Linked DNA regions of Homo sapiens. The protein of the gene in region 6 purifies or fractionates together with the protein of the main gene of each other region. This does not show direct contact. Each region holds a gene or a part of one and is shown on either strand. Other genes may lie near its edges. The genes, in order: ACSF3, SDE2, SQOR, TRIOBP, PRRC2C, HAUS2 and NEMF.

Region 1 (3,500 bases), on a different chromosome or scaffold from region 6:
GGCTCAGCTGCCCTGCCCCTCCCAGTGCTGGAGAAGTGGAAGAACATCACGGGCCACACCCTGCTGGAGCGGTATGGCATGACCGAGATCGGCATGGCTCTGTCCGGGCCCCTGACCACTGCCGTGCGCCTGCCAGGTACGAGCACTTCCCACAGCTGCGTTCCTCTTCCACTGTGCTCTGAGCCCCCCAAGGTGGGCCAGTCTCGAACCACCCACATTCGGACTGAAGGGCGGCATGGAGGATGCTCCCCCGTGGGACAGGCCACTCGGCCAGGAGAGCACTCAGGATGCACTGCGACCTGTCCCCTCTGGGTAGATCAGCCTTCTCCCAAGTCTCAGTCGGGTGGATGGGGGAGGTGTCTGTGCTGGCCCCTGGCTGTATGACTGGGGAGACAATGGGAAGAACAGCAATGCCTGGAATGCAGGCGTCAGTGCATGTCTCAGAGGAAGGCGGGGGGCCATGCTGTTGGCTCCAGACCACATCAGCAGTGGTGGCAGCCTCCGTCTGTCTGGAGTCCGGGTGCCACACAGCGCCAGCAGCAGTGCCAGGAGAGGTGGGTGTGGTGGGCAGGGTGGGATGAGTCAAGCACCTGTCTTCCTTCTCTAGATGTGGGCTCCTGATACCGGGCCCCTCTTGTCCAGCCTTCCCTAACACATCCCATTCTGACTTTCATCTGACCCAACCATTTGAGCCCTGGGTCCTCCGCTGGGACTTCTGGGAACAGAGCCCACAGCTGGGGGGCCACCCTGCTGCTTTCTGCGCAGCCCTTCCAGTCTGTCTAGAGTAGAAGAGAGATCTCAGTGCAGACTTAAAGTGAGACCATCCCGCACATCTGTCTGTGCAGCTGCTTACCTGCAGACCCAGTAAAAATTCACCCCTCTGGCGTGCAGCTCTGTGTGTCTTAAGAAACATCATCACAGTCAAAATAGAGAAGGGTTCCTCGCCTCAGAAACTCCCTTCCTAGTGCTCAGCACCTCCTCCACCCCCGAGGCCTGGCCCCTTGTTCCTGTTTCTCTTCTTGTGGTTTTGCTTTTTCTGGGAGGCCACGTGGCTAAATCCTGCAGGACGTGGCCTCTGAGCCTGTCTGCTTCCGCCCGGCTTCCGCCCACAGTCAACTGCCTGTGCTGTGTGCGTCAGAGCCCGCGCCTTTCCCTGCTGAGTGGCATCCGTGGTGTGGGTGCGGCACCGCTTGTGACCCTGTTTTAAGCAATGACACGTGAGATGTTATCAACATTTGTGTGCAGGTTTCTGTGCGAACGTGGTTTTTTATTTCACCTGGGCAGATACCTAGGAGAGAGATTGCTGTGTTGTCTGAAGCTTTCAAGCTGTTCTCCAGAGCGGCTACACCATCCCCTTCCCCCTGCAATGGGTGGGAGGTCACGAGCACCTGCTGCTCCAGCGGGCGGTGGTGGTGTCTCGTTGAGTTCATGATTCTCTCATGATGGGTGGCGTTGAGCACCTCTTCCTGTTCGTGTCATTCCGTTTTCAACTGGGGCCTTTGTTTTCTTGAGTTTTGAGAGCTTTTAAAATTCGGGACCCAAGTGTCAGCTGTGCGATTTTAAATATCATCTCCCAGCTTGTGGTTTGTCTTCCCATTCACCTAACAGCGTCTTTAAAATCAGGAGTTTTAGGTTTTGGCCCGGTTTATCAATTTGTTTTGTGAATTGTCTGATGTCATATCTAATAAATCCTTGCGTAGCCCAAAGTCACAGAGAATAGTTTCAGCTCTTACGTTTGGGACCATGATCCATTTTGAGTTAATGTTTGTACATAGTGCGAGATACGGACCACAGTTCTTTTTTAGTGTGTGAATGTCTAACTTTTTAGCACTGTTCGTTGAAAAGACTCCCTTCTCCATCGAACAGCCCTTTGGATCTTTGTTGAAAGTCCGTCGACTCCTGAGGGGTCGGCTCCTGGGCTCTGCTCTGTCCCATTGCTTTCCGTGTGCCCTTTGGCTCATTCCATGCCTGCTTGGTTCCTGGGACTCTAGGGTAAGCGTGGACATGGGGGTTCAGGCCCAGGCAGGGACCAGCTGGTGCCAGGCAGCGATACGGTGCTGGGGCCTGCAAGGTGAGTGTGAGGGCTGGCTGGCTGCTGGGCTGGGAGGAGGAGAGACTGTAGGCTCACGCCCCTTTGCTGGGCCTGGGGAGCCATGGGGGCTGTTAAGTGTATTCTGAGTGTAAAGTCTCGGTTTGGCTGGGGCATCCTGAGCAGAATGACAGGGCCATGGCAGCGAGATCCTCAGCTGCCGTGCAGAGCTGCCAGTGGGGTGGCCGCACAGAGTGCAGTGCCTGCTGCAACAGTGCCCAGGGCAGTGGGCGGGTGGGGGCATGTTGTGAAAAGAAGTCAGTGTGAGTGATGAGAAATACATCCTAGTCTCAGACCCCAGGAAACCGCCGTCAGTGCTGGTGGCCCCTGCCCTGGGCCGGCTCCCGCGTTAGTCTCAGACCCCAGGAAACCTCCACCTCCGTCAGTGCTAGCGGCCCCTGCTCTGGGCTGACTCGCGCATCTCCACGATGGCTGCGGCACCAGCTGTTTCTTCGGTGGCTAAAGCTCTCTGGTGGAAATAAGATGGGGACCTTGAAATCAAATGTGACTGGTCTGTTGAGTCTCTGTCCTTATCGTTGTCCTTCTTAGTAGGATGTGCTGGTTTTGTCCAGTGCCACCGGCCACAGTCACCACGTAATATGGACGGAATGAGCAAAGCCCGGCTCGCTGAGGCTGCAGGCTGCAGGCAAGTGAGGACTGAAAGGGTAACGGGCTCTGGGCTTTGTCCTCTCTTTGTTCCGGACATGTGAGCAGGACAAGTTCTGTGTATTCAGAATCTGTCTGCACAGTTTGTAGTTCATGATGACTGTTCATCCACAGCATTGCTTTGTGGGCGTCCTCTCTTTTGATCTTCTCGAAACAGCCCCTGCGATGGGGTCATATTTTGCACTCACATACAAGAACCCATGAGCCTGCCCACGGTCACGCGGCTGGTGAGTGATGCACTTCCCAGGAGCACGGTGACCTCTTCAATGGCCCTCACTAGAGAAGATGGACAGTGCCCCCCTAGCCTTTTTTACTGGAACAGATACAAGGCTGAGAAGCTGAAATCAGGAGCAGCCCAGGGACCACTGTCTACACCGAGGGAGTCATGAGCAGCCCAGGGACCACTGTCTACACCCAGGGAGTCAGGAGCAGCCCGGGGACTGCTGTCTACACCGAGGATGTCAGGAGCAGCCCAGGGACCACTGTCTACACTGAGAGCGTCAGGAGCAGCCCAGGGACCGCCGTCCACACCAAGAGCGCCAAGGAGCAGCCCAGGGACCGCCGTCCACACCGAGGGCGCCAAGGAGCAGATAGTAGCCCAGAGACCCAGGGGAGGCTCAGCTTCCCCACGCTGGAATCAGAACTCCTAGGCGAACAGGAAGGAGCCCCAGACAGATGGCACAGGGAGAGGAGTCCCCGGCTGAGGAGGGGGATCCAGAGACCCTGAAGCTTCAGGGTTATTGGG
Region 2 (4,098 bases), on a different chromosome or scaffold from region 6:
AACTCCTGACCTCGAGATCCGCCCGCCTCAGTCTCCCAAAGTGCTGGATTACAGGCATGAGCCACCGCGCCCGGCCAGTACAATCTATCTTTATTATTTTTTTTTTTGTAATTTTTATTTATCTACTGGCATCCCCATGGAGGCCCTTTCTCTCCCCAACTTTCCCTCGTGTGTGAAATAAAGACCACTGAATCTATTAACTTCCCAGGCCTTGAAATTCCATTTTCGCACATACTGCCACCGCTAAACGATTTCTGAATTTTTTGTTGTTACCCCCTCAGCTAGGAGTTCCATTTGCCAAGCATTTTAACAGCAGAGAAGGCAATTCTGTGGGCCGATGCATTTGTGTTTAGCAGGCACAGATATCTCCAAATAACCTTCCTATCTTCACACTGGTGGCTTTTGAATTGTTCAGGGTTTTAGAAATACCATAATCTCATTCTGTTAAATATTAAGGGACTCTTTCGGATTCCCTGAGCCTTAAGGTTACGTTATGCAAATCTGTCCGAGTGTGTTTCCATGGTGCAGAATAAAAGTTATGGTAGGGTTTTTTGAAGCAGCATGACTATAAACGTCACTCCTGTCACTGCCTTTCACAAGAGCCCACTTGCTGTGAAATATTTTGAAAACAGAGCTGAAGTGGAGATAACGCAGTGCACAAACAGGCGGAAATAAGAATAAACCGTGCGTGGCAGGCAGAAACCCGGAGGTTGGCTGTTTCTGGAGGGGAAGAGAAGGCTCTGTAAAGCTGGAGGAGAAACCACGCCGGCCACTGTTTAGGGGCCTCCTGGGGGTCGTTTCCCTTGCCCCCTCGGGTTGGGGAGCTCCTCTAGGCCAAGGAAGCGGCCCCCTAAAACCGCTTCCGGGACTGCAGCTTCTCTCCCCACACTCTCAAGGAGCAGAGCCTTCTCGGGCCACAATTCTCCGCGACCCAAAAATAACTACACAGATGTGAGGAAAAGGGCCAAAGCCTACAGCACAAGGTGGTTCTCAGTTAAAGCCTTATCGCTTACGGCCAGGAAGCTCGAAACCTAACCCAGCGCCAGCCTTTTATAGCCGGTCCCTCGAGCCCCGCCCTAGCAACTTCTCCTAGCAACGCCTCGCCCCGTGCTCTGCCGCCTTATCTGCCTCCGCCAGGCCTTTCCTGTTCCCCTCCCCCAGCCCGCACCGCCCCGCCGCCCGGCTCACTTGACCCGCCCCAGGGGAGGGGAGGGGTGAACGGAAGCGTGAGGGGCGGGGCGTTGGAAGATGCTCGCGTCATCAAGAGGCGCCGGGCGAGTTGCGGCGCCTGGTGTCTCAGAGAGGCTTGAGGTTCGGGTAGTCGGTGACATGGCGGAGGCCGCGGCGCTGGTGTGGATTCGCGGCCCTGGCTTCGGGTGCAAGGCGGTGCGGTGTGCCTCGGGTCGGTGCACCGTCCGGGATTTTATCCACCGGCACTGCCAAGATCAGGTGAGGATTTCGGTTCCTGTTAGGAAGGAGAAAGAGGCAGACAGGTGGCAGCGCTGGGTGCGGAGTAGGTCTGTCCGGGGCGGGGGTACGTTTATTCTCTGGGGTTTTCACTCGTTGAGGCTGAGAGTTCCTCAGTGTTAAGGTGCTTCGAATTGTTACTGAGACCTTCCTTTGCTTTTCTTTTGTGGTGGTGGTTTTGCCTTCCCACCAAGAGGGAGAAAAAAACTGTTACAGGCACTTAGTCCCGCTCACAGTTACAAATACTTTGTTTCTCTTTCTTTATCCGTAAATATAATGGTCTTCTGGCAGTTGGGCCGGCTGATTTTTAAGGCTCCAGTCTTCACCTTCTTACTATGGTTATGTGACGTGTATTTTGTCCACTCATCACACAGCCTTGTTAGCCCCAGCCTAGAGAAGTATGTCATATCCAAACCCAGGCCAAAGGATGATTGGGAAGGAAAATTGATTCTTCTGGTCAGTCGTTGTGACCAAGCATTCACACGTGTGTCCTGTTGAGGGCCTGGGTTCTTAGGGCCTGTTACGTAGAAGTGTTCACTATTAATTTGATGGTCTCATTTGTCCGTGCATATTTGTGAAAACCTACCAGGGACTTCCAGAGTTACACGTGAGCTTTTACTGAACTTTCAAGTAAGTAAGCTTTTACCAGCTATAAGATATTAAACCTGTTCAGTTGTCAAAAGAATTTAGTGGTTTCCCTGAATCTAATTTTAATGTTGGCACTTGATCTAGAACTCTGTTCTTTCCGCACCTCATCCGTGCTTTCCTCGGCTATTTCCTCTGCTTACTATTTATAAGCTTAACAAATGTTAACACTGCAGTCTAGACCAAAATTTTAAGAGACTTGGATCGATTCCGTGAAGAAGCAATGTGTGTTTGCAAATAATACGGTTTTTCACTTTCCATGTTTTCCTTCCTGCTCTGTAATCCAGTCTAAAAACTGTAAGCACAACTGTTTTTGACCATGAAAATAATTGCATTCTAATTCCTTTGAAAATAATTCTTATTTCATGAGTACAGTGTTCTTTTCTCCCCCTCCCCCACCCCCGACGGAGTTTGACTCCCGTTGCCCGGGCTGGAGTGCAATGGCGTGATCTCGGCCCACTGCAACCTCCGCCTCGCTGAGTTCAAGCGGTTCTCCTGCCTCAGCCTCCCAAATAGCTGGGATTGCAGTCGCCCGCCACCATGCCTGGCTAATTTTTGTATTTTTAGTAGAGACGGGGTTTCACCACGTTGGCCAGGTCTTGAACTCCTGACCTCGGGTGATCCGCCCACCTCAGCCTCACAAAGTGCTGGGATTACAGGCTTGAGCCACTCCTCCCGGCCTATGAGTACAGTTTTCAAACTTGCTGACAATTGATCCAAAGTGAAACCAGAAAAAATAGGATCTTAATCATGAGGTATGTTGGAAAAAAGAATTTTTAAATCGGAAGCAAGAAATATAGGCCAGGCGTGGTGGCTCACGCCTGTAATTCCAACACTTAGGGAGGTCGAGGCGGGCAGATCACCTGAGGTCAGAAGTTCGAGACCAGCTTGGCAACATGGTGAAACCCCATCTCTCCTAAAAATACACAAAAATTAGCCAGGCGTGGCGGCAGACGCCTGTAATCCCAGCTACCCAGGAGGCTGAAGCAGAAGAATCATTTGAACCTGAGAGGTGGAGGTTGCAGTGAGCCGAGATTGAGCCATTGCACTCCAAACTGGGTGACAGAGCAAGACTCGGTCTGAAAAAGTATATATAAAGAAATATAAATGAGTGGATTCAGTCAGAAACTTAAGGAACATGACCATAGCAAATATGAATAGAAACACAAAAGAATATTAGTTGAGATACTGGAACAAGTAAGAATAGCTCAAGTTCACACCTATGTTTTTAAAAACAAAACTATTCTGAGACATGATGAAGTTAGTGTTAACTCCCACTGAGAAAATAAAAATCTGCCCTGCTTTTCATCAGGCTGGGATAACAGACACAGATAAAGCCAGCTGCAAAGTTTTTGTTTTTTGTTTTTGTTTCCCCCACACTACACCGATGTACAGCTGCAGAGTTAACAGGAAATGGTGATGTGTCATAATGTCATAACGACCCCCACGAAGGTCTGCTGCTTTCTTATTCACTGAGAAACCTTGGTCTCAAAAACCATAGAATATATAAGAAATTTTGCTGTTTAAAGTTCTCTCAATAAGAGGGAACCTTCCCACTCTTGCCTTGTAGAGAAGCATTCTTGATTTCCAACCCAGGTCAGAGCTTCCCATTAAGGGTTTCTGGACACAACTTTCCACATTTATCTTAAATTTGTAGTTTCCAAGGAAAGAGGAGCCTTCACAATCCAGATCTGATGTTGACGTTTTTATATACAGTCCTGCTTTATTTTGAACCTTTTTAAACACTGCTTGATGTAAATTTCACCTCAACTCCACCCTAGCCCCAAATCTTGTAATGACACTCCTTTCTTTGGGTTGGTGAGATACCCATGACTCCTGGTGTGCAGTTCCCCTCGTTGCAGTGAATCAGTAAGTTTGACAGGTTTATCTCTGATAGCCTTAGGCTGGTTGTGCTAAAACACACATGATAATTTGTGTTTGAAGCACTTTACAATGCACAAATGGTTAAAAGCAGTTAAATTGAGT
Region 3 (3,500 bases), 3.1 Mb from region 6:
TATTTCTGTAACTGTATAGGATAAATAACTTGGTCCTCCTTCATTAACATACATAGTCCAATCAGTGTGGTGGTTTTCAAACTTTAATGTTTATTAGCAGCATTGGGGAGACTTGTGGAAAATACAGGTTCCCAGGCTACACCATGCCAAGATCCCAATCTAGTAGATCTGGGTAAAGCACGGGAATCTGTACTTTAAAATCTGCTAGTGATTCTGATATGTAAAATCTGTGGATCACATGCTTACAATCTCTGGCTTGAAGGAACAGGTTCATTTACAAAGAAAAATAGAATGCTATTATTTGGACAAGTCACTTCATCTCTTTGGTCTTTAGTTTGCTTATCCATAAAGAAATGCACTAGACTAGACAATCTCCAAAGTGTCTTCTAGTTCCTCCGCCTCCCAGGTTCAAGCAATTCTCTGCCTCAGCCTCCCAAGTAGCTGGGATTACAGGCTCCTGCCACCATGCCCGGCTAATTTTTGTATTTTCAGTAGATACAGGTTTCACCATCTTGGCCAGGCAGGTCTCAAACTCCTGACTTCGTGATCCACCCGCCTCGGCCTCCCAAAGTGCTGGGATTATAGACTTGAGCCACCACGTCCGGCCCAATTCTTCACACCAGTTGTTTTCAATCCTGGTTGAACATTAGTCATTAGGGGAATTTTTGAAACTCCCCATCCTCAATCTGCACCCCAAACCAATTAATTAAAACCTCTTATAAAGAGGCCAGGCATCAGCACATTTTAAAAGCTCCCTAATATGTAGCCAGGGTTAAGAGCCACAGCTTTACATCCTTCTGGTGGATTTTTTGAAATTCAGATTTTAAGAGTGGAACTAAATATCTGACCTGAAATCCTATAATTCAAAGGGGACACAAATATCTTCTTTAATTACAAACCCCTTAGAAGAATAATAACCATTCATTTATCCACACCCCTACCTACAACCTCAGCTATCCAGAGGACAGCTGGGAAACGAAGTACTAACAAAGTTAAGTTCATGCACTCAAGTTCATACACTTTGCTCATAAAAGGATGCTTCGGGCTCTTACTCATAGCTCATTTTAGTGAAAGCCCAACTTGGGCTCACTCAAACGGACTCTCTCAAATGGGCTCTTTTGTAAAGTAAAAATGAGTTCACTCATATGAGCTCTCACTCATAGCCCATTTGAGTGAGGCCATTTGAGGAGCAGCAATTTAAAAAAGCTAAAGCTGGAGGGACCTCCCAAAGTCACTAACAACGGCCTGACAGCCAGGAAAAAGGAAAACTACAAAAAGGACACACAAAAAACAAACAGCAGTAATTTGAGACCCTTTTATAAAGTGATAACTAGCTCCAAACATTCCAGTAGCCTCTGTGTGCATAACTACACAGGAGCTATTCAAAATGATGACCCTGAGCTGCTGCAGATAGATACTAGATGAGCCTGGGACAACCTGTGACACCAGAAAGTAAAGGAAGTGCTCAAACACATGATGGGGCATGTCACAGGGACACAAGAGCCAGCTGGAAGGGAAATCTACTGACCAAATCCAAAACAATTTGAGCACCATAATAATTAAAAACAATAATGAATGATAACACTGTAAGAAAAAATATAGGAACTCATGAGTTCATACCAATAGTTAATTAACTAAGAAGCAAAGACTCTCGCTGAAAGAATGCCAAGAGCTTACTGGTAAATGTGCAGGAAATGTCACAGTTAGCAAATCACCATTTTGCAACCACCATAGTAAAGATTTGATTAGGCAAGGATCATCAATGGATGCTAACTCTAGTGGGGAGACTTGAATGAGTAGACTATTTACATGGTTTTAAAGTGTCTTCCCACAGACTTCTTATTAGTAGCAAGGGAGAAAACAAATTGTAATTATCCCCTGGAAAAACTGGACCACATCTTGACTGCTGATCAAAATTAACATCACCAATGAAGGGCAGATGAACACTGTATGCTTGCAAATGTGATACCTTAGAATGGCACAATGCTTATGCAATGTTCCAGTCTAACAAACAGAGCCTGAGGCCAGGTGCGATGGCTCATGCCTGTAATCCCAGCACTTCAGGAGGCCGAGCAGGTGGATGGCTTGAGGTCAGCAGTTCGAGACCAGCCTGGCCAACATGGTGAAACCTCGCCGCTACTAAAAATAAAAAATAAAAAAATTAGCCGGGCATGGTGGTGCACACCTGTAGTCCCAGCTACTCATGAAGCTGAGGCAAGAGAATCGCTTGAACCTGGGAAGCAGAGGCTGCAGTGAGCTGAGATTGCACCACTGCACTCCAGCCTGGGTAACACAGCGAGACTTCGTCTCAAAAATAAATAAATAAATAAATACATATCAAAGCCTGAAACTAATCACAAGAAAACACTGACAAACTCAAAATGAGGAACATTCTACTGAAAGAAAAGTGGTGGGGGAGAGGGCTGTATTATTTCAAAATATCAACGTCATAGAAGACAAAGAAAAGCTATAGAAACATCACAGATTAAAGGAGGCTAAATAGACCTCACAATTGAATGTAATACCTGACTGTAGCCTGAGTCCTGCACTGGAGGAAAAAATGCTACAAACACAGTTGGGCCAATCAACTAAATTGGAATACAAATAGTAAGTTAAAAAATTGTATCTGTGCTAAATTTCCTGAGTTGATAATGGTACTGTGGTTATGTAAGAGAACACTTCTATTTTAGAAAATTAACACTAAAGTATTTGGGGCTAAAGAGAGCTGATGCATGATATATGTAAATTTCCTTGGAAAAACTAGATATGGATGGATAGATAGATAGACAAAGGCAGATAGAAGAAAGAGAGAAAGAAAGAAAGGAAAGAAGGAAGGAAGGAAGGAAGGAAGAAATCAAATGATAAAGCTAAAGCAAATGGTAAAATTCTACAAGTGAATCTAGGTAAAAGCTACATACAATTTTCTTTGTACTATTTTTATTTTGTAACTTCTCTAAGTTTGAGATTATTTCTTTTTTTTTTTTTTTTTAGACGGAGTCTCACTCTGTCACCCAGGCTGGAGTGCAGTGGTACAATCTCGGCTCACTGCAGCCTCCGCCTTCTGGGTTCCAGCGATTCTCCTGCCTCAGCCTCCCGGGTAGCTGGGATTACAGGGATGTGCCACCACGCCCAGCTAATTTTTGTATTTTTAGTAGAGATGGGGCTTCACCATGTTGGCCAGCCTGGTCTCGAACTCCTGACCTCAAGTGATCCACCTGCCTTGGCCTTCCAAAGTGCTGGGATTACAGGCGTGAGCCACCATGCCCAGCCAATCCCTGTTTTCTTCAACTACCCACAGGGTTACTTCCTGCTCACAAGCAGGACTGTTTCTCACATGCCACCAATTGAGACAATCACCAGATCTTGCATTCGAGGAAGCCCTCCCTTACCTCTACACAGTAACCAAAGTTGTGGAATATTTTTGGCTACCTCAAGTGACTCGATGCCAGGAAAAGTTGAGTCAAAGGAATAGGACAAAAATTCACTTGGCACCAGCTAAC
Region 4 (3,500 bases), on a different chromosome or scaffold from region 6:
TTTGTATTTAGTAGAGGCGGGGTTTCACCATGTTGGCCAGGCTGGTCTTGAACTCCTGGCCTCAAGTGATCTGCCTGCCTCAGCCTCCCAAAGTGCTGGGATTACAGGCGTGAGCCACCGCCCTCGGCTGGAATCACTTCTTTAACATGCACAGCCCCAGACCTCAGTCTCTTGGAGATTCTAACTGTGTGAATTGGGAGAGAGAAAGGGGAATCTAGATTTTTTTTTTTTTTTTTTGAGATGTGGTCTTGCTATGTTGCCTAGGCTGGAGTGCTGTAACTATTCACAGGTGCAGTTATAGCACACTACCACCTCAAACTCCTGGGCTCAAGAGATCCTCCCACCTCTGCCTCCCGAGTAGCTTGGACTGCAGGTGCACACCATCTTACCCAGCTGAAATCTGCTTTTTTTTTTTCTCAGTGCAGTGGCACAGTCATGGCTCACTGCAGCCTCGACCTCCCAGACTCAGGTGATCCTCCCAACTTCAGCCTCCTGAGTAGCAGGGACCACAGGCCTGCACCACCTTGCCCAGCTAATTTTTGTATTTTTTGTAGAGACGGAGTTTCGCCAGTTGCCCAGGATGGTCTTGAACTCTTGGGCTCAAATGATCCGCCGCCCGCAATGGGCCCAGCTGGAATCTGCATTTTTTTGTTTTTTGTTTTGAGATGAAGTCTCACTCTGTCGCCCAGGCTGGAGTGCAATGGCGCAATCTTGGCTCACTGCAACCTCCGCCTCCTGGGTTCAAGCCATTCTCCTGCCTCAGGCTCCCAAGTAGCTGGGATTACAGGCACGTGCCATCACACTTGGCTGATTTTTGTATTTTTAGTAGAGACAGGGTTTTACCATATTGGCCAGGCTGGTCTCGAACTCCTGACCTCAAGTGATCGGCCCACCTCGGCCTCCCAAAGTGCTGGGATTACAGGCATCAGCCACTGTGCCTGGCCTGGTATCTGCATTTTTATGAACAGCCCAGGAGGGTGTAATGCAGAGTCCTTGGCGTGCACTTTCAGCAACACTGCAGTAAGGACTAGAAATCGCACATCAAATGCTGGCAGAGTGCCTGGTGCTTAGTAGGTGCTTAGTGAGTGTTTGTTGAGTGAATAAATGAACAGGAATGGATGGAGAACAGGAACCCAAAGGAATGGATGAGTAACCTTATTTCCTTGGTCCTTGTCTGGAAACTGGGGCAACTGGGGCTGGGGTTCAGGTGAGTGGCCAGCCAGTCATCTGGTCTTTGCCTCCCCCTCATTTTTGCCAGGCCTCACATAGACGGTCAGCCATTGGATCATAGGAACTGCCCTGGCCTGACTCACCCAATATGGAGGAGGTGCCTGGGGATGCCCTGTGTGAACACTTTGAGGCCAACATACTTACCCAGAACCGCTGTCAAAACTGCTTCCACCCTGAGGAGGCCCATGGAGCAAGATACCAGGTGGGCCAGTTTTCCACGTGGTTGGGGTGGTTTGTGATGGGGGCATGGGTGAAGGACTGGGCCTGTGGTGTCCGCTAACTCGCAGTTGAACCCAGATGCTGGACTTCCTCCTGTCGAGAGCCTCGGTTTTCCCACATTGCAGGGAAGTGGTTGAACCATGTGAATGTTTCACAATCTTCAGTCACTTTCCTCCTGCTTATATGATACGATTGTTACCATAGCCTTATCTAATCTGTTACTTACTTTGTTATTCTTTAAATCAACATCTTTTTCCCCTTCTATTGAAACAAAACTTCACATCATCAACACAAGTAGAAAACTAGAATTACTTCCTGTTAAGAAGAAGAGGTTAAGAAGAAAGGTAGAGGCTGGGCACGGTGGCTCACGCCTGTAATCCCAGCACTTTGGGAGGCCGAGGTGGGTGGATCACCCGAGGTCGGGAGTTTGAAACCAGCCTGGCCAACATGGTGAAAATTAGCTGGGCATGGTGGTGCATGCCTGTAATCCCAGCTACTTGGGAGGCTGAGGCAGGAGAATCACTTGAACCTGGGAGGCGGAGATTGTGGTGAGCCGAGATCGCGCCATTGCACTCCAGCCTGGGCAACAGAATGAAACTGTCTCAAAAAACAAAACAAAACAAAACAAAAAAGAGAAGAAAGGTAGAAAAAGAAAAAACAAAACAGAAATGTCGTTACACCCTAACTTGAGAGTGTTTTCTTTTTCTTTTTCTTTTTTTTGAGACAGAGTCTCACTCTGTCGCCTGGGCTAGAGTGCAATGGCAATGGTGTGATCTCAGCTCACTGCAATCTCTGCCTCCTAGGTTCAAGCGATCCTCCCGCCTCAGCCTCCCAAGTATTGGGATTACAGGTGCCTGCCACCATGCCCAGCTAATTTTTGTATTTTTAGTAGAAACGGGGTTTCGCCATATTGGCCAGGCTGGTCTTAAACTCCTGACCTCAGGTGATCCACCCGCCTCAGCCTCCCAAAGTGTTGGGATTACAGGCGTGAGCCACCGCGCCTGGCCTCGAGAGTGTTTTCTATGGAAGGCTCTGAGCTTGCATCCTGCTGTCTCTTTGTCAAAAAGGGAGATTAGCAGATGTTAGAGAGATGTTAAGAATACACCAGCATCATCTAGAGATTTTCTTTCTCTCTCTCTTTTTTTTTTTTTTTTTTTTTTTTGGAGATAGGGTCTTGCTCTGTAGCACAGGCTGGAGTGCAGTGGTCCAACCTATAGTACATGGCTCACTGTAGCCTCGACCTCCCAGGCTCAAATGATCTTCCCACCTTGGCCTCCTGAGTAGCAGGGACTACAGGCACATGCCACCATGGCCAGCTAATTTTCTTGTAAAGATGGGATCTCACTATGTTGCCAGGGCTGGTCTCAAATTCCTGGGCTCAGGTGATCCTCCCACCTCAACCTCTGTAACTGCAGGGATTACAGGTGTGAGACACTGCACCTGGTCTCAAGATTTTCTTCTTCAAGTTATTGAAGGAGTGAAGAAGAATCCTTTTTTTTCTTTCTTTTTTTTTCATTTGAGACGGAGTCTCTCTCTGTCGCCAGGCTAGAGTTCAGTGGCTCAATCTCAGCTCACTGCAACCTCCGTCTCCTGGGTTCAAGCAATTCTCCTGCCTCAGCCTCCTGAGTACCTGGGATTACAGGTGCCCACCACCATGCCCAGCTAATTTTTGTATCTTTAGTAGAGACAGGGTTTCACCATGTTGGTCAGTCTGGTCTCGAACTCCTGACCTTGTGATCTGTCTGCCTCGGCTTCCCAAAGTGCTGGGATTACAGGTGTGAGCCACCGCGCCTGGCCGAGATTTTCTTCTTCAAGTTATTGAAGGAGTGAAGAAGAGTCCTTTTCTGACTTTGTGATTGATGTAGTCTGCTGCCAAGCCCCCATGCATGTAAACACAGAGCACCTGATACACACGCAATGAGAAACCTGGGACTCACGAACCTCCGAGGGCCCTTCCAACCTTGACCACCATGGCTTCGTCATTCCCATTGGGGTCTGAAGGTCCTCTTTTTTTTTTTTTTTTTTTGAGACAGAGTCTCGTTCTGTTGCCC
Region 5 (3,500 bases), on a different chromosome or scaffold from region 6:
TTTTGAAAACAGAGGACATTGAAAACAAAGGAGGCTTTAGACAGGTGAATTTTAAGTTTATATTTGGAAATTTGATTTGTGGTGTACAGTTCTTTAAGTTTTAGTACGTATGGATTTTTGTAGCCCCCACAACTAGGATACAGAATGTAGAAAGATAAAACATCTCCCAACTGTAGAACTAGAGTCTTCTGGCATTTTGGAGACAGGGAAATTCTCTTGAAGAAATAACTATTAAAGAGGGATGGAAAAAGCCAAGAATGGCCTACCCATGCTGAATGATTTGTTTTCTGATTAGAAAGAAAAAATATTTTGATTATACTGTTATATTTATGACAAACTTGAACATAGAAAGAATGAAAGTAGGAGAAAGAAAAAGAAGGAGTTGGGTGTTGTGGCATGTGCCTGTGGTCTTAGCTACTTGGAAGGCTGAGGTGGAAGGATCTCTTGAGCCCAGGAGTTGTGGAGGGTAGCGCACTGTGTTCTACATATGGACTGAGTGTCTGCACTAAATTCAGCATCAATAGGGTGTCCTGGGAGTGGGGGACTAACAGGTTGCCTGAGGAGGGGTGAACTGGTCCAGGTTGGCAACAGAGCAGGTTAAAACTCCCATGCTGATCAGTAGTGGGATAGCCATTGCACTCCGGCCTGGACAACATTAAGGTGACCCTGTTTCTTATTAAAAGCAAGAGGGTAGGGGAATTTTTTTAATTTTATTTATTTATTTATTTATTTATTTATTTAGAGACAGAGTCTCTCTCTGTCGCCCAGGCTGGAGGCAGTGGTGCGATCTTGGCTCACTGCAACCTCTGCCTCCCAGGTTCAAGCAATTCTTCTGCCTCAGCAGCCCGAGTAGCTGGGATTACAGGTGTGTACCAGCACACCTGGCTAATCTTTGTATTTTTAGTAGAGATGGGGTTTCACCGTGTTGGCCAGGCTGGTCCTGAACTGACCTCAAATGATCCACCTGCCTCGCCCTCCCAAAGTGCTGGGATTACAAGGCGTGAGCCACTGCGCCTGGCCGGGGAATTTAAATAAAATAAAATAAAATAATAAAAGAAGAGAAGGAAGGAAATAGGTTTACATGTCTTAAGACTGGATATTTCAGTGGTAGAAGAAGAGGGCCAATGATACGGAGGGATGTTAACCAATTCTCTACACTTAATAAATTTAAAATTAATATTCTGACTTTTAAAGGCAACCCTTTGGTCCTCCAAAAGATTAACCATAATTCATAATGCTAGATGAGCATCTTGGAGCAAGTACTTCTCTTTCACTCTCATAACATTCAACATACTTTGGCCTTGCAAAAAACAAAGTTCAATTAACTGGATGGGGTGGCATGTACTTGTAGTCCTAGCTCCTCAGAAGGGTGAGGTAGGAGGATCACTTGAGCTCAAGTTCAGGGTTGCAAAGTGATGGCACTGCTGCACTCCAGCATGGGTGACAGAGTAAAACTGTTGAAAAGGAAAATAATAAATAAAGGTTGACTAAGAAATTATCTATGCTTTGGGCCTGAAGCGATGGCTCACCCTGTAATCCCAGCACTTTGGGAGGCCAAGGTGGGTGGATTACTTGAGGTCAGGAATTTGACACCAGCCTGGCCAACATGGTGAAACCCCATCTCTACTAAAAATACAAAAATTAGTCAGTTGTGGTGGCAGGCGCCTGTAACCCCAGCTACTCAGGAGGCTGAGGCTGGAGAATTGCTTGAGCCTGGGAGGCGGAGATCCTACCACTGCACTCTAGCCTGGGCAACAGAGCAAGACTCTGTCTCAAAAAAAAAGAGAAGAAATTATCTATGCTTGGGTTTTTCTTTTTAATATATTAGTTTTGCAAATATTGATTACCACTTAATAAGTTTTTGTTACAGGCTTTACACTATTCTAAGAGCTTTATACACACTTTGTTAATTAAATCTTATAATAGTATTGGAGTAGATATTATAGCCCACCCAGGTGAGGAAGTAAAAAATTTGAGATTAAGTAATTTGCCTGTGGTCACCTAGCTACTAAATATTAGAGCTAGAATTTAAACAAAAACAGTTTTAAGAGAAACAGTTGTGTAATTTTAACAATTTTAAAATACATAAGTTGTTAAAAAGAATGCCCTGGCAATCACCTCATTAAGTAATCGGTAGACAGAACAGCTGTACTTTTTAAGGACAGCAGTTTTTAGTACAGAAAATTTGATAGCTACATTTCTGTTCTGATTGTTAAGGCTTTATCCTACTCCGGAAACTTAATTCACATGTTTCAGTTTCCAGGAACAGCCTGAGCCCTTCCACTATCCTGATTAGAACTCCAGCAGATTTATTTATATTACACTTTGTTTTTTAAAAAATGACCATTTTGGATGTTTTTGCCGAACTGCTATTTGTAGTAAAAGAATTCAACATATGGTGGTATTCTTAGCTTTACTATTATAGTGGCAAATGTACTCTTAAAATATTTGACCTTAGAATTACTAGTTCATTTTAACTACTAGAAATGGAAGAGACCTTGTAAGTGGCCAATTCAACTTCTTACTCAAAGCAAGAATTATCTTTATAATATTTCTGACAGGCTTACCTTGCTTTTGCTTGGATCCATCTGATGATTAGTAGGTTACTACAGTCACCCCTTAACATTCACAAAGCATATGTCCTAAGATCTTACAAATTTCCGTATTTAGCATTCAAACCTCTTCACTTTCGCCTTCCGTGATCTACACTAGGATTTGGCCTCCTCTTCACTGCTCTTCCCCACCCTGCCCCCCTCCCTCAAGAAAGAAACAGATTTCTCTTTGTAAGAGTTATTGTATCCCCTAAAAGAAAACAAAGCTCTGGGCCTGGGGTCTCAGCATTAGGAGTGGTGAGGGATATCCAAGCTTATTTTCTAGATGCATACCTCATGGCATGTTAGTTACATTTTGTGCTTTAGCAAAATTACACGTCATTTCACAGCTCTTTGGGTTATTTGGCAAATTGTTAAAGTAATGCTATAAGTTTTAGTTTAATGTAACTTACTCACTTATGGATAAACTGAACAGTTTTTCCTTTGCATTCAGTCGTTTGTTAATGTTTGTCTTCATGAAGCCTGGAGTTGAGCATAATACTCTAAACATACTGTGACAAACATAAAATTCAGTGGAACTGTTATGACTCCAAATCTGTGCATTAGATTTCTATTAAAATTTTATAAAGCAGTATTGTCACACTACTAGCTGTCACAGCTAGAACCTTTTTCACATGACAGTCTGGGTCTGTATTCTGCATTTATGAAATCCAGTTTCTGAACTGTTAATATGACTGTATAACTAATTGTTTAATTCTGCCTAGCATTCTAAGACCTTTAAAAATCTTGGTCATGGAATACATTGGTACTCCTTCAGATGTATATATTATTTCATATGCCATGTTTACTTTCCAAGTCTTTATTCAAGTTATTGACATGGAAAAGGACAGGGTCCAACATATCCAGGCCAAATTATTTCATATTGACCACATTCTTTTAAATATAAAA
Region 6 (3,500 bases):
CAGGCTGGTCTCAAACTCCTGGGCTCAAGCAGTTCTCCTGCTTTAGCCTTCCAGAGTGCTGGGATTACAGGTGTGAGCCATCATGCCAGCCTGTATTTCTAAATAAGTATTATGTATGATTATATTACTTCTTCACCAGAAAATGTTCAGTTGCTCCCATTTTCTGCAGTATGATTGTTGAGCATAGCACTCAGGATCATCTATGATTATGTTGGAGACTATGTTTTCAGCTACATCTTACCCCTCTTTTCACATATATGCTAACACTGGTGGTTATTGAGCATTTGTAATGTTTTTGATCTTTCTATCTAGAATACCTTTTTCTTCCCATCCATTATGAGCCTCATGAGGGTAGAGAGCTTGTTTCACTCATATTTGAATATTTCGTTGACTAACTCAGTAAGTGTTCATAAAATTGATTATTTTTGGACAGTAAACTTTTACTATGAAGAGCCAGAGAGTAAATATGTAAGGCTTTGTGGGCCATATGGTTGCAGCTACACAACTAGGTGGTTGTATAAAAGCAGCCAGAGATAGTGTGTAAATGGATGAGAGAAGTCATGTTCCAATAAAACTTTATTTCTGGACCATGAAATTTGAATTTCAGATCATTTTCTTTTCTTTTTTAAGACGGAGTTTCGCTCTGTCACCCAGGCTGGAGTGCAGTGGCGCGATCTCGGCTCACTGCAACCTCTGCCTCCCAGGTTCAAGCAATTCTCCTGCCTCAGCCTCCCAAACTAGCTGACTAGCTGGGATTACAGGCGCCTGCCACCACGCCTGGCTAATTTTTTTTTTTTTTTTTTGAATAGAGACAGAGTTTCACCATGTTGGCCAGGCTGGTCTCAAACTCCTGACCTCAGGTAATCCACTTGCCATGGCCTCCCAAAATGTTGGGATTACAGGTGTGAGCCACTGCGCCCAGGCTTTTTTTTTTTTTTTTTTTTTTTGAGACAGGGTCTCACTCTGTCGCCCAGACTAGAGTGCAGTGGCAATCTCAGCTCACCACAACCTTGTCTCCTAAGCTCAAGCAATTCTCCTGCCTCAGCCTCCCGAGTAGCTGGGATTACAGGTGTGCACCACTCCTGCCTGGCTAATTTTTGTATTTTTAGTAGAGACGGGGTTTCACCATGTTGTCCAGGCTGGTCTTGAACTCCTGACCTCAAATGATCTACCCACCTCGGCCTCCAAAGTTCGGGATTACGGGCATGAGCCACTGTGCCCAGCCTGTTATAAAATATTGTCTTTGATTTTCTTTTTCCCAACAATTTGAAAATATAAAAACCATGCCTGGTTCACAGGCTGTACAAAAACAGGTAATGGGCTGCATTTATTTCATGGACTATAGTTTTCCAGTCCCTGGCCTATCTGATCTCTAAAGTTCTTTGGCCTGGACGCGGTGGCTCACGCCTGTAATCTGGGCACTCTGGGAGGCTGAGGCGGGTGGATCACCTGAGGTCAGCAGTTCTAGACCAGCCAGGCCAACATGGTGAAACCCCAACTGTACTAAAAATACAAAAAAAAAAAAAAAAATTAGCTGGGCATGGTGGCAGTAATCCCAAAAACTCCCAGCTACTTGGGAAGCTGTAATCCCAGCTATTTGGGAAGCTAAGGCAGGAGAATCAGTTGAATGCAAGAGGCAGAGGTTGCAGTGAGCAGAGATGTTGCCATTGTGCTCCAGCCTGGGTGACAAGAGCGAAACTCAGTCGGTGGCTCACGCCTGTAATCGCAGCATTTTGGGAGGCCTAGGTGGGCAGATCATGAGGTCAGGAGATCGAGACCATCCTGGCTAACACAGTGAAACCCCGTCTCTACTAAAAAATACAAAAAAATTAGCCGGGCATGGTGGTGGGCGCCTGTAGTCCCAGCTACTCGGGAGGCTGAGGCAGGAGAATGGCATGAACCCAGGAGGCAGAGCTTGCAGTGAGCCGAGATTGCACCACTGCACTCCAACCTGTGCGACAGAGTGAGACTCCATTTAAAAATATATATATTATATATAATATATATTTTATATATAATATATATTTTATATATATTATATATTTTATATATAATATATATTTTATATATACATTATATAATGTATACATTGTATATAATGTATATTATATATAATATATACATTGTATATAATGTATATTATATATAATATATACATTGTATATAATGTATATATTATATATATATGAAGTTCTTTGCTGTGCTAGCATTCTAGAAAGCAAGATGATAGAGAAAATTATGGATGAAGTCTAGGAATGCACAAGATAATACTCAATTCTGAGATAATGTGCATGGACTCATGGAATGAAAGGATGAAAAAGAAGGGGTAACCTTTTTAAAAGAATAATTATGCCTGGATACAAATAATCCTTTAACTAAAAGATGAGAATGTGAACATACACAGTATGAATGACTTGTAGGCAACTGAGGTCATTTAACGAATCAGATAAATAATTCCATGAAGGCGAAAATATTTGATTTCAACCCCGGAAGCTCTGAGAGACTGGGCCTGAGTCATTTGGAAAGGTAGAGGTGATTCTCCAACAAATTTAGCCTTTGAATCCTTTGATAAACTATCAGTAATACAAATCTATTTTGTATGGTACCTTAGGAAATAATACAAAGGGAGTGTGTTGTTTGTTTCTCTTATTTTTTTTTTAAATATTTGAGCAAGTGATTTGTGATGGTGAAGGTTCTAAAACAGGAATTACACATTGCTACTATTTTACTTTGTACTTCATGTTCAAAGGCAGTGTTGAACATAATATTTTCTCATATTTTAGACTATGGGCATGCTATTCCAATGTACCTAGAAACTTTTTGTGACATTCTGCTACTTTCCTTATTCATTTACCAATAGGAGATGTTAAACATGTCTAAGAAAACAGTTTCTTGTTTTGTGAACTTCACCAGACTACAGCAGATCACAAATATTCAAGCTGAAATCTACCAGGTAAATCATTTTGTTTTCACTTTCTTTTTTTTTTTTTTTTTTTTTTTTGAGACGGAGTCTTGCTCTGTCACGCAGGCTGGAGGCTGGAGTGCAGTGGCACAATCTCGGCTCACTGCAAACTCCGCCTCCCAGGTTCACGCCGTTCTTCTGCCTCAGCCTCATGAGTAGGTGGGACTACAGGCGCCCGCCACCATGCCCGGCTAATTTTTTGTACTTTTAGTAGAGATGGGGTTTCACCATGTTAGCCAGGATGGTCTCGATCTCCTGACCCCATGATCTGCCCGCCTCGGCCTCCCAAAGTGCTGGGATTACAGGTGTGAGCCACTGCGCCCGGCCTGAACTTTTCACTTTCTACTCCTAGTATAGGAAAACAAAAACAAAAGTTGGCCAGATGTAGTGGCTCACACCTATAATCCTCGCACTTTGGGAGGCCAAGGTGGGAGGACTGCTTGAGCCCAGGAGTTTGAGACCAGTGTGGGCAACACAGGGAGATCCCGTCTCTACAAAAAATTTTAAAAGTAACCAGACATGGTGGCACACACCTGTA
Region 7 (3,500 bases), on a different chromosome or scaffold from region 6:
AGGGAAGGGAACAACTACTGTAGGGTGGGAAAGACTAAGCAAACTAAAGCACTCCAGGAAGAGGCCCTAGAACAGAATGGACAATAAAGCCTTTTCATTTGAGAAACATAATCATTGAACAATTACAGAGAATTCTGAGCACATAGCCCTGTGCTAGATACTTACTGAGTATACAAAGAGGTGAAGTATAAAGCTCATGCCTTCAAGAAGCTTTTGAGTCCTGGATTCAGGAAGTAGTCATAAATATGTAAATAGTGTCTGAAAGTGATAAAGTAGTTCAAGAGTAAGAGATTGCTGTGAGTTCAGATGTTTGGGGAAATAACATCAGAAGTATACCTTGAAAGATATGTTAGCAGTTAAGTAAATGAAGGAGGGAGACTCCAAGGAGAATTAGCATTAACAAAGGGGAGTGCTTCTTTGGGGTAATATGCATAGTGCTTTGGGGAAATGATAAATAGACTGAGTTGGAAGGAAGAGAAAGTTTGTGTATTAAATGGTAGATAATATGATTGGAGAAGTAAATTTGGACTAAAAGTGGAGTACTTAAAAGCTAAGGATTTTGGACTATACCCTTTAAAGTGATACGAAGAGAATGTGACATAGGCAAATGATTAAGGAAGATTAATATAGAAGTTAATGGCCGGATGTGGTGGCTCACGCCTATAATCCCAGCACTTTGGGAGGCCAAGGCGAATAGATCACCTGAGGTCAGAAGTTTGAGACCAGCCTGACCAACATGGTGAAACCCCATATCTACTAAAAATACAAAGTTAACTGGGTGTGGTGGCACAAACTCCGTTTTAAAAAAAAAAAATTCAGAGTATGTAGACTCTGGAGGAAGTCTGGGTGGGATGTAATGAGGACCTGAACTAAGACGTTGGCATTGGGAACAGAAAGAAGAATACCACAGTAATAAAATTTACCCTTCCTTCTTAACCTGTGTATTTTTAATCCATTTAGTCAACCAACCGGTCAACAGATGTTTTATTGAATGCCTAAGACCTGCCAATGCTATGTTGGTACAAAGACTACAAATCCCAGTGCCTGGCCATCAAGGTGATCAGGGGCAAAATGTGCCTAGTGAGTAAGGATGAGTCAGGGGTGACAATATGTTGAGCTTGGATGATGGAAAGAAAGATAAATCCATGAGAGATGAAAAACTTGCATCTTTTTCCCACATGATGATTTTAAGCATCTTTGTATTTTCTAACTTGGTGATTATCAAGTGAAGCAGAAGCCATGACCATTTATATACTGTATATGTGCCTTCCCCATGGAACTTTTTTAGGGCACTAAGAATTTCAAATTCTAAGAATGAAATGTTTTCATGTCTTTTTTATTCAGGGAAATGAAAAAGAAAAAACTTCCAAGTGACTCAGGAGATTTAGAAGCGTTAGAGGGAAAGGATAAAGAAAAAGAAAGTACTGTACACATTGAAACTCATCAGAACACAAGCAAAAATGTTGCGGCTGTGCAGCCAATGAAACGAGGACAAAAGGTAAACTTCAGGATGATCTATATGGTTCACAGTTAATTTGTGAGGTTCCTTTTTAATTTTTTAAAGTTGAAGTGAAATAGAAAATGTAGGCCAAAAAATAATCCTGTGTGATTTCCTTTGACTAAAAATTAGTTGAGTAGATACAGCATTTAGGGAACACAGAGATCACTATTAGAAGTTCTTTAGACTTTCAAGATCATCTGCACAGAAGCTCTCATTTTATCTGGAAGAGTAATAGGAGATTATGGCTTGCCAAAGTCACCCAGCTAGTTAAGTAGCAGAGCTGATATTTATTGAGAATTTAGCTCAGTAATTTTTAGATTTTGGTTAGAGTTCTTAGATATTTTGCTAAAGGTGGATGGTGAAGAAAGAAGTACTTATGATAGAACATACTCTTTCCACACTGCCCCTGCCCCCACCTCCCCACCCCCCAACCCCGCTGTCAGCTCCCCCAAGATAGTCTTGCTCTGTCACCCACGCTGGAATGCAGTGGTGCAGTCAGGGCTCACTGCACTAGCCTTAACTCCTAGGCTCAAGTGATCCTCCCATCTCAGTCTTCCAAGTAGCTGGGACCGCACAGGTGCATGCCACCATGCTCAGCTAAATTTTTTTATTTTTTGTAACGATGGGGTCTAACTATATTGTCTGGGCTGGTCTCAAACTCCCAGGCTCAAGTGATCTTCCTGCCTCACCCTCCCAAAGTGCTTGTAACTAGAGGTGTGTTAGCCACCATGTCTGGTTATGATATAATACACTCTTCAAAATGCTGTAGCAGCCAGGCACAGTGGCTCATGCGTGTAATCTCAGCACTTTGGGAGGCTGAGGCAGGTGGATCACTTGAGGCCAGGAGTTCAAGACCAGCCTATCCAACATGGTGAACCCTATCTCTACTAAATATAGAAAAATTAGCCAGGCATGGTGGTACATGCCTATAGTCCCAGCTACTCGAGAGGCTGAGGCAGAAGAATTGCTTGAACCCAGGAGGCGGAGGTTGCAGTGAGCCAAGATCACGCCACTGCACCGCAGCCTGGGTGACATGGCGAGACTCGCCTGTCTCAAAAAAAAAAAAAAAGCTGTAGCAGTATAAAAATGAGGGGATTATGGGCTAATTTATCAGTGTACCCCTTTTAAAATTTAAATTTCTTTTCAATTTTTTTTTTTTTTTTTTTTTAGAGACAGGGTCTTGCTCTGTTGCCCAGGCTGGAGTGTAGTGGCTATTTACAGGCATGTTTGTAGCATACTACAGCTTTGAACTCCTGGGCTCACGCATTCCTCCTACCTCAGCCTCCTAAGTAGCTGGGACCACAAGTGCATGCCACCACACTAGGCTATAATCTTTATAAAGATGTTTTATGATCTTTCCTTCTTCCATACAGGTCAGATTTTCCTATGCTTTTTTCCAGTGAGCTGCAAATGACATGTGCATAAGGAAGGGAAGACTCAACCTAATAAAAATATAAATTCCCCTCATATGTAAATTCAACATGACTTTAATCAGAATTGAGATTTTAATGCTTGATAAAATAATTGTAAATTTATTTTGGAAGGAGTAATGCTTGAGAATAGCTAAGGAAATAAGGAGGGATTTCCCTATGAGGTAGTAAAATATTTAATGCTAGAATTTTTACAACAGCATGTTATTAACATAGGAATAGCTAGACAGAAAAAAATGAGACAGAATAAAATCTAGACAGAGGACCACTACCTGATATTTAGCATTTTAGTACGTGATAAAATAATATTGTAGATCATTTGAGAAGATATGAAATATTCAAAATGATGGCTAACCATGTGAAAACGGTACCACAGTGAATTGCAGGTGGAGAAAGTAAAGAACCACCAGTAAAATTAAAAAACAAATGACAAATCTGGAAAAAAAAAAAAGTGATGACAGAAATGCTGTGTAAACCTGGGGAATTTTTTTTACCCATCAAATTAATAGATACTACATTGTCAGTTTGAGTGTACAACATGGGAATTCCAGTCAAAAGTCTTAACAGTG

What was found.
Region 1: the proteins of HAUS2 (region 6) and ACSF3 purify together in Homo sapiens (affinity purification with mass spectrometry; one large-scale study listed by BioGRID and IntAct). This does not show direct contact.
Region 2: the proteins of HAUS2 (region 6) and SDE2 purify together in Homo sapiens (affinity purification with mass spectrometry, with the first as the bait; one large-scale study listed by BioGRID). This does not show direct contact.
Region 3: the proteins of HAUS2 (region 6) and SQOR purify together in Homo sapiens (affinity purification with mass spectrometry; one large-scale study listed by BioGRID and IntAct). This does not show direct contact.
Region 4: the proteins of HAUS2 (region 6) and TRIOBP purify together in Homo sapiens (affinity purification with mass spectrometry; one large-scale study listed by BioGRID and IntAct). This does not show direct contact.
Region 5: the proteins of HAUS2 (region 6) and PRRC2C purify together in Homo sapiens (affinity purification with mass spectrometry, with the first as the bait; one large-scale study listed by BioGRID). This does not show direct contact.
Region 7: the proteins of HAUS2 (region 6) and NEMF purify together in Homo sapiens (affinity purification with mass spectrometry; one large-scale study listed by BioGRID and IntAct). This does not show direct contact.

The regions. Positions count from the first base shown.
Region 1 is NC_000016.10:89,114,352-89,117,851, forward strand, and holds part of ACSF3 (malonate--CoA ligase ACSF3, mitochondrial isoform 1 precursor), read left to right. Parts: coding exon 1-136; intron 137-2,638; exon of another isoform or gene 2,639-2,735; intron 2,736-3,500. UniProt on the Homo sapiens protein: Catalyzes the initial reaction in intramitochondrial fatty acid synthesis, by activating malonate and methylmalonate, but not acetate, into their respective CoA thioester. May have some preference toward very-long-chain substrates.
Region 2 is NC_000001.11:225,996,544-226,000,641, reverse strand, and holds the start of SDE2 (splicing regulator SDE2), read left to right. Parts: upstream 1-1,298; 5' UTR 1,299-1,329; coding exon 1,330-1,449; intron 1,450-4,098. UniProt on the Homo sapiens protein: Inhibits translesion DNA synthesis by preventing monoubiquitination of PCNA, this is necessary to counteract damage due to ultraviolet light-induced replication stress.
Region 3 is NC_000015.10:45,676,529-45,680,028, reverse strand, and holds part of SQOR (sulfide:quinone oxidoreductase, mitochondrial), read right to left. Parts: intron 1-3,500. UniProt on the Homo sapiens protein: Catalyzes the oxidation of hydrogen sulfide with the help of a quinone, such as ubiquinone-10, giving rise to thiosulfate and ultimately to sulfane (molecular sulfur) atoms.
Region 4 is NC_000022.11:37,700,048-37,703,547, forward strand, and holds part of TRIOBP (TRIO and F-actin-binding protein), read left to right. Parts: intron 1-1,258; 5' UTR 1,259-1,318; coding exon 1,319-1,432; intron 1,433-3,500.
Region 5 is NC_000001.11:171,492,030-171,495,529, forward strand, and holds part of PRRC2C (protein PRRC2C), read left to right. Parts: intron 1-3,500. UniProt on the Homo sapiens protein: Required for efficient formation of stress granules.
Region 6 is NC_000015.10:42,555,338-42,558,837, forward strand, and holds part of HAUS2 (HAUS augmin-like complex subunit 2), read left to right. Parts: intron 1-2,860; coding exon 2,861-2,953; intron 2,954-3,500.
Region 7 is NC_000014.9:49,793,789-49,797,288, reverse strand, and holds part of NEMF (ribosome quality control complex subunit NEMF), read left to right. Parts: intron 1-960; exon of another isoform or gene 961-1,056; intron 1,057-1,344; coding exon 1,345-1,498; intron 1,499-3,500. UniProt on the Homo sapiens protein: Key component of the ribosome quality control complex (RQC), a ribosome-associated complex that mediates the extraction of incompletely synthesized nascent chains from stalled ribosomes as well as their ubiquitin-mediated proteasomal degradation.